Linked DNA regions of Homo sapiens: region 2 is linked to region 1. The links come from fine-mapping of genetic effects on gene expression. A gene starts in region 1. The other region holds a variant in brackets. All regions are shown on one strand. Distances are between the middles of the regions.

Region 1 (8,262 bases):
GGTTGAGGTCCAGCCCTGGCTGAAGGACTGTGACAGGCAGCAGAGACTTGGGACATTGCCTTTTCTAGCCCGAATACAAACACCTGGACTTAGCCCTGTGCCCACAGTGTCTCCTCCTGGGATAACAATGGCCAGGGAGGGGAGCCACCATGGGGGACCCCTCTCCCTAGATGCCTCCCTCCCCACCCTCTCCTTCACAGGGGCCTCCCAGCCCATGCAACAGGCCCCCATCTGGCCCGAGTAGCTCATTGCTACTGAGGGAGGGTGGGGGAAACACACCCTGGCCCAGGGGGCAGAGGACACACTGTTCCCACCTGGCCCCAGGAGACCTCAGGCCACTCCTGGCCACAGCAGGACAAAGCTCTGACCTCTCCTTTCTGCCAACAGAGCTGCTTCCTGGGATGAGGGGTGGGGGGCCCAGCGAACTGACTCTGCTCAGGGGCGCTGCCCAGCAAAGTCTCTCCCCGACCACTCTGGGCCCCTCCAGCCACCTCAAAGGGGCCTTCAAAGCTGTGGAAAGCAGAAGGAATCCCCCCCTCCCCTCTTGCTCCATTACTAGGCTGGAAGGAGACCTCATCATCCCAGAGAGAGGGGTGAGGGAGAGAGGGTGGGGGCTCTGTTCCCAGGCCTCCCCCTGCTCCAGGCAGGAAGCAGTGGGGCAGAGGCGGGCTGACGTGGCTTCAAGGGCCTGGGTGGTGCTCTAGGGAGCTCTTACACAACAGCACAGATCCGGCCCGTCCAGGAACTCATTGGCGTGGGGCAGGGACTGATTTCCCCAGGAGAAGAGGGCCTGGCTGAGGTTGAGGGAGTGAGAAGGACTGCCAGCCATGGGCACCGGGGAGTCGACAAGAGAGGTGCAGGAGGCGGCTCCGGGGCTGTATCCAGAGCAGGAAGCTGGTGCAGTTCCCAGGGCCGGGGTCTGTCCTCATAGGAGGCTCTCGGCATCATAGTAGTCTGGGGAAACAAGAACCTCATCTTGACTCCCTCCTGTCTCAGTGGACCCCAAAGAGGTAAAGGGAAGGGGACAGGCCAGTTGCCTGCAGCAGTGATGTTAGGAAACCCCCAAACCCCACCAGAGGGCACAGGGCCCTCCTGGCCTCCTGATTCACTCCCAGGCCTGGGCCCCGCTGCCCACCACCCCAGCCCTACCTGAAGCCGGGGGTACATCAGCACCCACAGTCCCTGTGGCACTGGGGGGTGGGGGTGGGGGCACAGCTCTCCTGAGATGGGGGAAAGAAAAAGACCCCCATCAGAGGCCCAGGGGTGGCCTCTGGAGTTTCACCCACAAGTTATCTCCACCGACCACCAGCCCCTGCACAGCTCTTCTGCAACTTCCAGCCCAGAGCAGAACCCTGGCAGCACCCAGCCTCACTTACACCTCCCTTTCCCTGGAGGCAGGACAGTGCTGAATCCTGGGCACGTCCTGCAAGTAGGGCTGACAAGCAGGGGTGGGGAAGAAGGGGGCTGGCCAGGGCAGCAGGGCACCCGGGGAGGGCATCAAATAGGGCAAGTAGTGGTGGTGAAACACCAAAGGCCCTTTCTCCCGCACGTCCATCTCCTCCTCCTCCTCCTCAGGCTCTTCCTGTGGAACCTCCAGGTAGACCTGGGGATTGTGCAAAACAGGGAGGGGAAATGAGAATCTACCATCAGGCTCTCCCCACCGCCACTCCTCCATTCCCCTAAGTTATTTCCTCCAGATAGGCTTTGTAAGAATGGCTTGTGGCCAGGCATGGTGGCTCACGCCTGTAATCCCAGCACTGTGGGAGGCCGAGGCGGGCGGATCACAAGGTCAGGAGATTGAGACCATCCTGGCTAACACGGTGAAACCCCGTCTCTACTAAAAATACCAAAAAAAAAAAAAAAAAAATTAGCTGGGCATGGTGGTGGGCGCCTGTAGTCCCAGCTACTCAGGAGGCTGAGGCAGGAGAATGGCGTGAACCCGGGAGGCGGAGCTTGCAGTGAGCAGAGATCGAGCTACTGCACTCCAGCCTGGGCGGCAGAGCGAGACTCCATCTCAAAAGAAAAAAAAGGAAAAAAAAAAAAAGAATGGCTTGTGTAGGCGGGGCGCGGTGGCTCATGCCTGTAATCCCGGCACTTTGGGAGGCTGAGGCGGACGGATCACAAGGTCAGGAGATCGAGACCATCCTGGCTAACATAGTGAAACCCCGTCTCTACTAAAAACACAAAAAAGTAGCCGGGTGTGGTGGCAGGCGCCTGTGGTCCCAGCTACTCGGGAGGCTGGGGCAGGAGAGTTGTTTGAACCCAGGAGGTGGAAGTTGCAGTGTGCCGAGATTGCATCACTATACTCCAGCCTAGGTGACAGAGAGAGACTCCGTCTCAAAAAAAAGAAAAAGAAAAGAAAAGAAAAAAAGAATGGGTTGTGTTTATTGAGCGTTTACTACATGCGGACAACAAATTGTGGAGACATTTACTCCTGTAGCTCAAGGACGTTGAGCAACTTGGCCACCCAGTTGATTCCAGGTGTGACCCCCAGAGCTGGGGCCAGGAGTCCACTGAGCTGTCCCCGGCCTCACCCCCGGCCCCTGGACCCACCTATGTGTCATCACTGAGGACCCAGGGGTGAGGGGTGGCAGTAGCTCCTCAGGGTCTCCTTCTGTCTGGATTCCTTGAACCCCTCTCCGCCTCCTCCGAGCTGAACAACATTCTCTCTCCACCCAGTCCCTGCTTCTCCTGACCTCAGGATGCCCACTATTGGCTGAGTAAGGCTCAGCCTTAGAGCTATATGCACATGCATGCACACACACGCTTGCACACACCCCCACTTGCACACACTTGCTTGCACGCACACACTTGCTTGCACGCACACACTTGCCTTCACAACCCGCTCGCACACACGTGCACGCACACCCTTGCACACGCACGTGAACACACACTTGCACACACATATGCATGTACACAGCCTTGCACACACACACGCATGCACACAGACACCCACTTGCACACACATACACACACACACTCTTGCACACACACACTGCCGCACACGGTTTCCCCCATTCTGTCTCCTGACTCTGCCCCTGCCAGCCTGGATGGGGGACACACCCTTCGCCTCCTCCAAGGGTCAAAATCCTACCTGGCTTTCAAGGGCTGGTTCTAAGATCCTCTGCTCCTCCAAGGAGCCTGTCCCCATCCCCCAACCCTATGTGCACTTGTGCTTTGTACCTCTCCATGTGCCATCACAGCCAACCTGGCTTTGTATCCCTAACCATTCATTTATTCATTCACTCGTTCAACAAATATCAGCTGAGCCCCTACACGGTGTCAGGCACCAGGCCAGACGCTCATGATGCATGGGGCAGGGTTACCAGGGTGCCTACCTTCCTGGAGCCTTAAGTCCAGTGGGGGAGGCACTACAGGGAAACCTCCTTGAAAACAAGACCTCGGTGGTCTGGACTTTGGGGGGTCTCTTCCCCGCCCCAACCTTTCATGGAGGCTGAAACATGACAGATGCCAAACAGCCCCAGCCAGAGAGACGGGCTGGCTTCCTGCTCCTCTGTCTCCCAGTTCTTTTCCCCCCTGAACAGGAACCCCAGGTGGATCCGCATCCCTGGACCCACAGGTGAGCGACCCCGGCGGCCCACCCACACGCACCTGAGGGCAGGGCGAGGCAGGCCGGGGCTGCAGCGCTCCAGCCACCAGGCGACTCAGCAGCAGCTGGTGCATCTGCGCGTTCTGCAGCATCATCAGTTCCAGCAGGTCTAGGAAGCGGGGTTCAGCAAGCCCACGCCGGGCCTCCGAGTCCCCCTCCCCCTGACACCCCTGTCCCGGGGGTGAAGAATGGGTTGGCGGGTTGTGCTGCGGGGACTCCCAGAGGATGTGCGAGGCAGAAGAGGGTGAGTGGTGGTGATGGTGGGGGTGGGGTGGGGGGACCCGGGAGTCTCACCTTCCTTCACGCGGCCTGGCTGCGGGGGCGCAGGTGGGACGGCCCACGAGAGGGGCTGCAGGAAGGTGACCCAGGGCTGGGGGTGTGCGCGGAGTCAGCCAGGTGGGGTGGGGGGAATGGATGGGGACACGTCGCGAGCCCCAACCCCCCCGGCCAGTGGCCTCCCTAACCCCGCAGGGGCCAGGTTCTCTCCTCCCCGCCCCGCGGCCTCCCTGCTCCCTGCCACGCCTCTTCCTCTCGGTTTGGGGCTGTCTCTCCTCGTCCCCCACCCCTCCAGGATCTGGCCCCTCCAGGGACAGCTCCCCACTCTGCCGTCTCCCAAGCTAAGGCAGGATCTGCTCCCGGGCTCAGCCCTCACCGTCGGGACTGCGCTCTGCGGTGGGGAGCGACCCCAGCTTCCGCCCGCCCCAGAGGCCATGGCTGGCGCCGGTTGCCTTGGCGACGCCGAGGACGCCAAGGTCTCTTCCCACGCATGCGCGGAGCCCGCCCGTGCTCCTGGGTCTTCCATCTCCCTGCTCCCTCCTGTCTCCTCCTCCGCGGACTTGGGGTCCCCAGGAGCCCTCCCCCGCCACCAGGAGGCCAGTCTCCTCCCCGGCATGTCCACCTCCCGCCGCGCTGCTCGGGGCTCCCCTCCCCTCCCCTTGCTGGTTCCCAGAACTGGGCCTGGGTTAGTGCGGGGAAGGGGGGTGTGTTTGTTGAGTGAATAAGCGAGTGACTGGGGAGGCTTGGTTTCGGGGTCCCAGAGCCCGATTGACTCAGCTGAAAAGTTCAGGAGAAACAGAGACTTTTGCAGGAGCAGGCTGGGGGCTAGGGCAGACGAGTGAGGAGGACAAAGGGTCTGTTCCCTGTCACTCTGACAGAGAGAGGGGCTTCCTGCCAGGAAAGAGTGGTTTCTGGAGCAGACCAAGGAAGGAAACACCGCCCGAATTCACGGAAGAGGCTGAGGACTCTGGCTGGAAACACGTGGCCGGCTTCTCGCCTCTCTCCTTGCGGCTATTTGCCCTGTTTCCTGGCCAAGGTGAGCCACTGCTCCTCAGACGAGGAAAATCGTGGTGACTTCAGCACCCGCGTCCCCAGTACTGTCTCCCGTACTGGAAAAGTTACCAAAGCACGCGTTCTTTTGACAGGAAGTTAGCAAGGTCTTCCTTGCTTAAGAACAGGTGAAGGGGGAGATCTATTTCTGCAGCTGTGACCATCCTAAGATAGGCCCCCGGCAGCAGTCAAGGAAAATCCAGACAGGAAGCTGGGCTTAGCACCCCGAGTAGCCCTTCCCCCACTCTCCATGTCAGCTCCCCTTCCTGCCAGTCCTGGAGTAAGAACCAGAAAGACCATTCCCACCTCCTCCTTTGCTCCGTAGTACCTGTCTCTAGGGGAGCAGGCTTGTGGGCATTACTTTACTGTCCCCATGGGTCTTATGGCTTCAACAGCCATTAACAAGCTGAGATCCAGGCACTGGGGTCACAGCCCCCCAGTGAGTAGAACACAGAGATGCCTCTCTCCATCTCCATTCTCATTCCAGGTAGAAAGAGAACAAGCCATTTTGCTCATCATCAACAAACCTTGACCAAGGAAGTGTCTGCGTGTGCAATGTGCCATCTGAACCCTGGAGGCATAAGCAGTATGGTCACTTGTCCCAGCATTGTTGGGAAGTGAAAATGTATCCATGGAAAGAGAGCAGAAAGATAAGACTACGCCCCGGGGATAATGAAAAAGAGAGGACTTGACCGCTGAGGGATGGAGTTCCAAGGAAGTCAGTCCTTGATGGGGCCAAGCAGCAGGGGAAGACGGGCGCTATCAGGCTGGGGACAGAGCCCAAGCCAAGACCCAGGTGTATGAATGGACAGGACCTGAGATGACCCGGTGGGTCAAACTGTCTGACTGTAGAAGAGGAGCTGGGCAGAGAGCAGAGGTCCAGGGACAGGCCAAGGTTTGGAATGCCAAGGTTTGGAATTTAGGCTTGGCCCTGTGGGTAATGGAGAGCTATCAGTGGGTTTCAAGCAAAAGGGAGATACCAAGTGCTGTGGCCAGCCATGTTTCAGGAAGATTGTTCTTGTCCACCTTTGTTTATGTCAACCACATTTAGAAGTAACAAATGTCTGATAGGGGGTCAGGTGCGGTGGCTTGTGCCTATAGTGCCAGCTACTCAGGAGGCTGAGGCAGGAGGATCGCTCAAGCCCAGGGATTCAAGGATGCTGTGAGCTACGATCACGTCACTGCACTCCAGCCTGGGAAACAGGGTGAGACCCAGTTTCTAAAACAAACGAACAAACAAATGTCTGATGGGGATGCATCCTCCCAATAGAATACTATTCAACCATGGATAATGTGGGAATAGAATATCTCTGTTGATGTGAAAAGTTGTCCAAGACAGTTGAGTCAAAAATATCAGTAAGCATAGTAAGATCTTATTTTTGTTTTAAAAATCATATGCATAAGTCCAGGCACGGTGGCTCACGCCTGTAATCCCAGCAGTTTGGGAGGCCAAGGCAGGCAGATCACTTGAGGTCAGGAGTTCGGGACCAGCCTGGCCAACATGGTGAAACCCTGTCTCTACTAAAAATACAAAAATTAGCCGGGAGTGGTGGCGGGTGCCTGCAATCCCAGACACTCAGGAGGCTGAGGCAGGAGAATCGCTTGAACCTGGGAGGTGGAGGTTGCAGTGAGCCGAGATCATGCCACTGCACTTCAGCCTGGGCAACAGAGACTCCATCTAAAAAAAAAAAAAATTCATATGCATATACATGTGTGTATGTACATGTGTGTGTGTGTGAATACACATACACACACACACACAGATCCAACTGTGGAGCAGCTGTCAGAGTTGGCCGACCCGCAGCCTCCCCTAGAGTCTTCTGCAGAGGGTTCCTGCCCTCACCTACAGCCCCTCCACCTGAGGACACCTGGCCACAGGTAAGACAGGCCAGAAGGTGGCACAGGAGCAGCCCACAAGCAATAATGGATGGGAGTTGATAGCTAAACTCGCAGCCTCCTGGTCTCAGTGCGACAACTCTGAGGTGTCTCCCACAGAGCCTCTCAGTGATGCCTGTGGGCTTGTGCCCAGGTGGCCCACAGTGACCTGCTCAGAAACACACACTTTACTGCCTTTTCTCCTCTCCCTGTCCCTTCTCCACTCTCTCGTAGTGCTCATTTGGATCTCCTTCCAAAGAAACGACTGCTCCCCAAGCCTGTGTCAGGGTCTGCTTTTGGGGGATCCCAACGAAGACATCAGCCTCCTACTCGCTCCACATCTGCCTCCAGGCTACTGAAAACTCCTGGAAAAGGGACTTAAGTAGCTCTATGATACATCTGCATTCAGAGATGTGAAATACTGAAATAGACATTGAAGAAAATGAGTTTGGGTGTACAATGGTCAATAGATTCAACTGAAGCAAGGCTGGAGGCAGGGGGCCCAGCAAAGAGGCTGCCACACTTGTCCCTCTAAGGAAGCCTGCAGTGGGCTAGAGGTGGCCGTAGAAAACAGTCAGGAGGAGGTGATCATTCCAATCCCTCAGAGGTAAAAGGGCATGTTAACCGCTTGTGTTTTGAAAAACAAGGCTGAGATCAAAACTATCTGACTTATGGTATTCCATTCGATGTATTTGTCAAAAGAAACGGAAGCATTTGCCATGAAGAAAGGAAAGCCACACACTTATCTGCCTGAGCTATTTTGCTCATAGAAGATCTCACATCAGCGCAGCAGAATAGGAGATGACTTACTTTCCTGCTATTTGACTTGCCTGCTATTATTTTCTTTGAGACACTGAACACTCCACCTATTTCTTTTTTATTTTCTTCTCAATAGGAACTCTTGTTGGCCTCTTTGGATTATTTTGTTTTTCAGATTTTTTTTTTTTTTTTTTTTTTAGTGATCCAAGACAATATGTGCTAAAAGTCCTCCCCATTGCCTTGGTAAATCTATTTCTGGGAATAAGCTAAACATAGGAGAAGATTTATACTAAAAAATGTTCATCATAGTGTTATTTTTAAAGGGTTAAAAATTAAACATTTGGCAGGACATGGTGGCTCACGCCTGTAATCGCAGCACTCTGGGAGGCCGTGGCAGGTGGGTCATTTGAGGTCAGGAGTTTGAGACCAGCCTGGCCAACATGATGAAACCCTGTCTCTACTAAAAATACAAAAATTAGCCAGGCTTGGTGGCGGGCACTTGTAATCCCAGCTACTCGGGAGTCTAAGGCAGGAGAATTGCTTGAACCCAGGAGGTGGAGGTTGCACTGAGCTGAGATGGTGCCATTGCACTGGGCGACACAGTGAGACTCTGTCTCGAAAAAAAAAGAAAAAGGAAAAATTGAACATTACCCAATGTCTAATAATAGGGGGATGGTTGAGTGAATTAAGGC
Region 2 (8,000 bases), 21 kb before region 1:
CCAAAGGTGGAAGCAACACAGGTGTCCCTCAATATATGAATGGATGAACAGAATGCAGCACACACGCACAATAAAATATTACTCAGCCTTCAAAAGGAAGGCAGTTCTGGCCAGGCACAGTGGCTCACTCCTGTAATCCCAGCACTTTGGAAGGCCGAGGCAGGCAGATCACTTGAGGTCAAGAGTTCAAGACCAGCCTGGCCAATATGGTGAAACCCCGTCTCTACTAAAAATACAAAAATTAGGTGGACATGGTGGCAGATGCCTGTAATCCCATCTACTCAGGAGGTTGAGGCAGGAGAATCCCTTGAACCTGGGAGGCAGAGGTTGCAGTGAGCTGAGATCACACCATCACTGTCCTCCAGCCTGGGCGATAGAGCAAGACTCTGTCTCAAAAAGAAAGGAAAAAAAAAGGATAAAAAAAAGAAAGAGCCAGAAGGTGAGGTACCATGATGCCAACCTTGGACCAATCATTTGACCAGGAAGGTGGAGCTGAGTAGGAAGATGGAAGCTTCCCAAAAAACTTGTCTAAAGTAGAAAAAGAAGGGGTTATCTTTAAAAAAGGGTGAGTCCAAACATGGCTCCTGGAGAAATTGTCCCAAATGGGACATCCACCCCCATTTGTGTCTATGACAGATGCCACCAAAACATTAAAGTCACGTGGGCCCTTCAAAGCTCTGGGCCCTGCTGCCTCCTTCCCACCATAGTCATTTTATATTGGCTCTGTTTTGCCAGCAGTATGACAAGGAGATTCCAAAAAGAACTGAGCTGAAGAAATTGATGCACACAAGCACCAAGAGAAATTGCGCCAGAGCAATGTGTGGCCTTGACTGTCCTCCTGGCCTCTGAATGGTCTAATTTGTGACTTTGCTAAGCCAGAAGTTTCAATGTGCTGTGAGGCTGGCCCGTGGGAGCAAGATCCTCTGCTCGTGGGTGAGCCTAGCTGGCTGCCCGCCACCCACCTCTGCACCCAGTGTTCATACTTTCTGCTTGTTTGTACAAAGTCACTCTTCTAGAGTAATTGTTGTAAAATTGCTAGGCAAGGTGGCAGGTCTGATAAGATTTGATGAAGTGATAGGTCTTAGTCACTAATAAGAGGCTTTTTTGGAATGGTGTGTCACAGCCAAGGAAGCCTCAGCTCTGTGATCTTCGCCTGCCTCACTTGGGGGACCAGAAGGTAGCTTGTCCTGGAACTGCCTCATTCACAGAAGGCCCCAGTGAGTACAGAAACTGCACATCAAAGGGAGGAGTAAGGAAAACAGGATGGCAAATCTTCAAAAATTAAACAAAATTACTTTTTTTTTTTTTTGTAGCGATGGGGTCTCACTTTGTCACCCAGGCTGGTCTTGAAGTCCTAGACTCAAGCAATCCTCCCACCTCAGCCTCCCAAAGTGCCGGATTTACAAGTGTGAGCCACCAAGCCCAGTCAGAATTACCACTAAAAAAAAAAAAGAAAAAAGGTTAAGATGGTAGATTTTGTTGTGTATATTTTACCATTATGATCCAGCATTTCCACTTCTGGGTACATACCCCAGAGAACTGAAAGCAGAGTCTTGAGCAGGTATTTGTACAACCCTGTTTGTAGCAGCACTATTCACAATAGCCAAAGGTGGAAGCAACACAGGTGTCCATCAGTATATGAATGCATGAACAGAATGCGGCACACACGCACAATAGGATATTGCTCAGCCTTCAAAAGGAAGGCAGTTCTGGCCAAGCGTGGTGGTTCATGCCTGTAATACCAGCACTTTGGGAGGCTGAGGTGGGCGGATCATTTGAGGTCAGGAGTTCGAGACCAGCCTGGCCGACATGATGAAACCCCATCTCTACTAAAAATACAAAAATTAGCCAGTCGGCACGTGCCTGTAATCCCAGCTACTCAAGAGGCTGAGGCAAGGCCAGGCACGGTGGCTCATGCCTGTAATCCCAACACTTTGGGAGGCCAAGGCGGGCGGATTGCCTGAGCTCAAGAGTTTGAGACCAGCCTAGGCAACATGGTGAAACCCCATCTCTGCTAAAATACAAAAGAAATTAACCAGGCGTGGTGGCGTGCACCTGTAGTCCCAGCTACTCAGGAGGCTGAGGCAGGAGAATTGCTTGAACTCGGGAGGCGGAGGTTGCAGTGAGCCGAGATCACACCACTGCACTCCAGCACTCCAGCCTGGGCGACAGAGTGAGGCTCCATCTCTACAAAACAAACAAACAAACAAACAACAACAACAACAACAAAAACACTGAGGCAAGAGAATCGTTTGAACCTGGGAGGCAGAGGTTACAGTGAGCCAAGATCACACCACTGCACTCCAGCCTGGGCAACAGAGCGAAACTCCATCTCAAAAAAAAAAAAAGAAAGAAAAGAGAAAGAGAGAGCTCCAGAGATGGATGGTGGTGATGGTTGCAGAACAATGTGAATGTACTTAGTGCCCCAAACTGTACACTTAAACATAATTAAAATGGGCCTAGCACGGTGGCTCATTCCCAGCATTTGGGAGGCTGAGGTGGGAGGATTGCTTGAGCTCAAGAGTTTGAGACCAGGCTGGGCAACATAAGCAACACTCTGTCTCTACAAAAACTACAGAAATTAGCCAAGCCTGGTGGCTGCACACTTGTAGTCCCAGTCACTTGGGAAGTTGAGGAGGGAGGGTCACTTGAGCTCAGGGGTCAGAGGTTGCCACGAACTGTGATTGTGCCACTGCACTCCAGCCTAGGTGACAAAAGCAAGACTCTGTCTTAAAAACAACACAACAAAAAATTGGCTGGACGCAGTGGCTCTTGCCTGTAATCCTAGCACTTTAGGAGGCCGAGGAAGGCAGTTCACTTGAGGTCAGGAGTTCGAGACCAGCCTGGCCAACATGGTGAAACCCTGTCTCTACTAAAAATACAAAAATTAGCCAGGCGTGGTGGCAGGTGCCTGTGGTCCCGGTTACTCTGCGGGCTGAGGCACAAGAATCACGTGAACTCGGGAGGCAGAGGTTGCAGTGAGCCGAGATCACACCACTGCACTCCAGCCTGGGTGACTGAGACTCAGTCTAAAAAAAAAAAAAAAATTGAAATGGTAAATTCTGTTGTGTACGTTTTACCACAATTAAAAAAAAAAAAAGCGGAATGGGAGTGGAGCTAAATGAGGCTAGTTTAGGGTGGGAACCGGGGCACAGGAAGCACGTCACTTCTGGTGGGGAGTGGGGGGAGGGAGAAGACTGAATAAGCCGTGAACTGGGCAGCTGTGACACGCGCACCTTGTCACCTTGTCACCAATTTCCTGCCCGGGATCCCAGAGCTACCCTTCTTGGAGCCCACAGGGGTAAGGTTGAGCTTCTCACTTTCCCTCCAATGAAGC[G/A]TGGCAGCATGGGAAGGATTTTGGCAGTGTCGAGGTCTGAGTTTTAGTCCGTTCCCCTCTCTGGGTCTCAGTTTCTCGCTGGTAAGTGCAGGGGTTGGGGAATCCCCAGCGCTCCTGTGGCTCGACATTCTGCACTCTGTGAAGCTCCTGCCCTGCCCTGCTGGGTCTCTGAGCTCACGCACTTGCCCTGGCGCTCCTTTCCTGATTTGTCTCCCCTCTCTCCTTCCTCTGCTCTGCCATCTCGGTGGCCGATGTAGAAATGTGGGGCTGCCTCCTTATTTAGGGGCCCACGTGGGCTGTGATCTGGACCATCTGAGCTGATGCAGAGGGGAAGGGACAGTCCCTGTTCTCCCCGGCAGGCGTGGTGGGTTCATAATGAATCTCAGTCACTCACTTCCTACCTGCCTCGGTTCGAGGGGGTCTTTCCTAACCCATGGCTCACATTCCCATGAAGCCTCTTCTTTCTAGGCACGTAGAAAGGCCCTTTTTCCCTTTTATTATTTTTGTAAAATTTACTAGGTAACGCATAAAAAGCTTATGTAACATACATATACATCATACTGCACAGTAATATACCAAACACACCTGAAGCTGCCACTCAGCACAAGGATGGAGTATCACCAAACTGCAAACACCACTTATCTGCTTTTTTTTTTTTTTTTTTTTTTTGAGACAGAGTTTTCATTCTTGTCGCCCAGGCTGGAGTGCAGTGGCACAATCTTGGCTCACCACAACCTTCGCCTGCTGGGTTCAAGCGATTCTCTTGTCTCAGCCTCCCAAGTAGCTGGGACTACAGGTGCGCATGCCACCATGCCCAGCTAATTTTTGTGTTTTTGGTAGCGACAGGGTTTCACTATGTTGGCCAGGAGAGTCTCGATCTCTTGACCTCATGATCCGCCCACCTCGGCCTCCCAAAATGCTGGGATTACAGGCGTGAGCCACCACACCTGGCCACCACTTGTCCACTTTTATGCTACTTGCCTCCCACCCACAGGTAGCCACCCTCTGGAATTTTGTGTTTATTGTTCTCTTATTTTTAAGTGCTTTATTACATATGCATCTCTATTTATTTATTTATTTATTTATTTACTGAGATGGGGTCACACTATATTTCCCAGGCTGGAGTGCAGTGGCTATTCACAGGCATGATCATAGCACACTACAACCTCGAACTCCTGGGATCCAGTGATCTTCCCACCTCAGCCTCCTGATTAGTTGGGACTACAGTCTTGAACTGCTGCACCTGGCTATGCCTATTTATTTTTATTTTATGAAACAGTTATATAGCGTTACTGTGTGCTAGGCACTGTTCTAAATGCTTTAAAATATTTACTTATTTTATTTGTTTAATCTGCACAAAAACCCTATGAGGAAGATACTATTATTGATTCCTTTTTGCAGATGAGGAAATTGAGGCACAGAAAGATTAAGTGATTTGCTCAAGGTCACACAGATAGTGAGAAGTAAGGCCGGGAGCAGTGGCTCATGCCTGTAATCCCAGCACTTTGGGAGGCCAAGGCAGGAGGATCATGAGGTCAAGAGATAGAGACGGTCCTGGCCAACAAGATGAAACCCCATCTCTACTAAAAATACAAAAATTAGCTGGGTGTGGTGGCGTACGCCTGTAGTTTCAGCTATTCGGGAGACTGAGGCAGGAGAATAGCTCGAACCCGGGAGGTGGAGGTTGCAGTAAGCCAAGATCGCGCCACTGCACTCCAGCCTGGGCGACACAACGAGACCCCGTCTCAAAAAAAAAAAAAAAAAAAAAAAAAAGAGAAGTAAACACAAAGACATGTCTGGTTCTTAGTGTGACAGCGTTTCTAGGGCATACATCTAAGAATGGAACTGTGAGTTACAGGGTATAAGAATATTCCGTTTACAAGATAATGCCTAATTATCTCTGAGAGCACCAATATACACTCTCATCAGCAGTTAGAAGGGTGCCTATTAACCTACGGCCTCTCCAACAATTGGTCTTGTCATATTTCTTAACTTTTGCCAACCTAATACATATAAAATAGTATCGGTCCCATTGTAATTTTAATTTTAATTTCCCTGGCTACTCGAGCTAAATAATCTTTTCACTTGTTTAGACATGTTTCCTTTTCTTTGAAATGTTTCTTTGTGTCTTTTTTTTTTTTTTTTTTTTTTTTGAGATAGAGTCTCACTCTGTCACCCAGGCTGGAATGCAGTGTCGCGATCTCAGCTCACTGCAAGCTCCGCCTCCTAGGTTCACGCCATTCTCCTGCCTCAGCCTCCCGAGTAGCTGGGACTACAGGTGCCCGCCACCATGCCTGGCTAATTTTTTTGTATTTTCAGTAGCGATGGGGTTTCACCATGTTGGCCAGGATGGTCTCGATCTTCTGACCGCGTGATCAGCCCGCCTCGGCCTCCCAAAGTGCTGGCGTCACAGCCGCACCCGACCTGTTTCTTTGTATCTTAGTCAAAGATACCAATTGTTGATTTTATGATTGACAATTTCGAGGTCTTGCCCCAAGGATATGGAAATACTCTCCTACATTTTCTTATAAAGAGTTTCTTTCACATATAAATCCTTAATCTAAATGGAATTGATTTCTATATTTGGTGTGAGATAGGGATACATTTTCCCCTTTTTTTCTCTATATGGTTAATCAATTGATCCTGTGTCATTTAACAGGCTCTTCTCTTACCCAGTGATCTTCTATGTCATCTTTGTCATGCATCAAAGTTTCAAACAAGCATAGGTGTATTTCTGGGCTCTTTATTCTGTTTCATCAGTTAATTTGCCTATACCTACGCTAACACCATATTTTACAGAAAGTCTTAATATCTAGCAGAGCAAATCCCTCACCTTATTCATTTCCTTTAGGGGCGTCTTGGTTCTTTTGTTCTTCCATATAAACCTTAAAATCAGCTTTCAGTTTCCATGAAAAACCCTACTGGGGTTAATTGGAATTGCACTGACCCTATAGATCAGTTACAGAATAATTTACATCTTTATAATATTGAATTTCCTATCCATGAACATGTGTTATCTCTCCATTTATTTAGATTGTCTTTAATATTTTTCAATAAAGTATTATAATTTTCTTACTATAGGTCTTATAGTTCTAGGTTTTGTTAGTTTTCTTGCTCTACTTTTTTGACTGTTATAATTGATGTATTTTTTAAATTATGTTTTTGTATGTTACTGATACACACAAGAACAACCAATTTTTGAATATTGATCTTTTAGCTAGTTGCCTTGCTAAAATCTCTTATTACTTTGAGTCACTTGCCTGATGATTCTTTTGGATTTTCTACCTGGGTAGTCACGCCATATACAAATACCGATGGTTTTGATCGCCTTTCCTTCCTTCCTTCCTTTCCTTTTACTGCAATGTGTAAGACCTTTGGTACAATATTAAACAGAGGCAGAAATCATAGGCATCTTTGTCTCTTCCTGATTTTAAAGGAAATTCTCCTAAGATTTACTCATTAAAAACAACATAGAAGTTTTATGTAAGTTTTCTTTATCAGGTTAAGGACATTTGCTTCTAATTTGCTAAGAGCTTGTATCATAAAAGGGTGTTGAATGTTGTCAATTTTTTTAATCTGTTGATATTATCGTATGTTTTTTCTTTTTAAATCTGTTAATGTAAGTTTTAGTTTGGTCTCCTTTTGCTCTAAAGCAGAATCCTTTGTTCCAAAGCAGAGGCTGGAGCAAGGACTTAGATTCAGATAGGTTATTTGAGAGGTGATTCCAGGAAGCAGGGGGTGAAGGAGCAGGGAAAACAGACAGGAAGGAAGGAAAAGCCCATTTAAAGGAGGGTGACTGATGTTGCAGCTGTAGGCGACGGAAGCTTATTCTGCTGAGACCTCTGATAAAACTACAGGATGTCTCTCAGAATTGCCCACTGGCAAGAAGGAGGCTGGAAAGTATATCCACTGGCTCCTGTTCCCCAACTGGGTAAGGATCGCATTCTAGGGACCTTAACTCTCCCACACTTCTGGGAATCACTAGCTGGCAAGTAAATTGTTCCTAAAGCATTGAAGAAGACCCTGAGACGAAAAGCAAAAAGAAGCATAGTATAAGTTTGGGGGTAGGTGGAGGGGCACTGGCAGCTTAAAAGGGAGTCTAGGCTTGCACAAAATCATCCACTGTAGGGACAGCTGAAATCAGCAGAGGGCAGAAGTGATATGACACAGAGCACCAAAGTCTACTATTACCAACATAATAAATAATGTTTATAGACATTTCTTCGTTGTTAAACCATCCTTGCAAACCTGAGATAAACCCAACTAGAATGTGATGCCTTTTGGTTTTTACACTGCCGGATTTGATTTACCAGTATTTTTCTTATAACTGTTGCATTTATAGTCATGAGTGAAACTGGCCTCTAATATTGCTTTCTCTTCCTGTACTTGTCTTGTTTAGATATTAAGGTTACACTGGCCTCATGGAAAGAGTTAATGTTTTCATTTTTTCCATTCTCAGAGAGAGTTTTTATAAAATTAGAATTACTAACCAGGCACAGTGCTGTATGCCTATAGTCCCAGTTACTCAAGAGACTAAGGCAGGAAGATCTCTTGAGCCCAAGAGTTTGAGACTAGCCTGGGCAATACAGCAAAACTCCATTTCTAAAAAAAATAATAATAATAATTTTTTTTAAAGAGTTACCCTTACTTGAACTTCTGCAAA

The links. PIP is the estimated chance that this variant, and not a neighbour inherited with it, causes the effect.
Region 2: its variant is fine-mapped to the expression of PRR29 in whole blood (TOPMed, PIP above 0.99).

Annotation. Positions count from the first base shown.
Region 1 is chr17:63,994,425-64,002,686 of GRCh38, reverse strand. It overlaps PRR29 (proline rich 29), which reads right to left and starts at 4,336. Exons shown (of 6, transcript NM_001164257.2): 1 at 4,263-4,336; 2 at 3,905-3,980; 3 at 3,613-3,719; 4 at 1,377-1,603; 5 at 1,150-1,220; 6 at 1-954. The coding sequence starts at 4,322. The coding sequence ends at 926. It overlaps ICAM2 (intercellular adhesion molecule 2), which reads left to right. Exons shown (of 5, transcript NM_001099789.2): 5 at 1-92. PRR29-AS1 (PRR29 antisense RNA 1) reads left to right here and starts at 2,788. Exons shown (of 3, transcript NR_126169.1): 1 at 2,788-4,362; 2 at 4,765-4,922; 3 at 5,424-6,616. RefSeq lists an enhancer at 3,173-4,150 and a silencer at 4,404-4,453.
Region 2 is chr17:64,015,824-64,023,823 of GRCh38, reverse strand. ICAM2 (intercellular adhesion molecule 2) reads left to right here and starts at 3,191. Exons shown (of 5, transcript NM_001099789.2): 1 at 3,191-3,301. RefSeq lists enhancers at 2,752-2,801, 3,022-3,111, 2,857-3,357, 3,452-3,571. The variant G/A (reference allele first, on the strand shown) is at 3,338.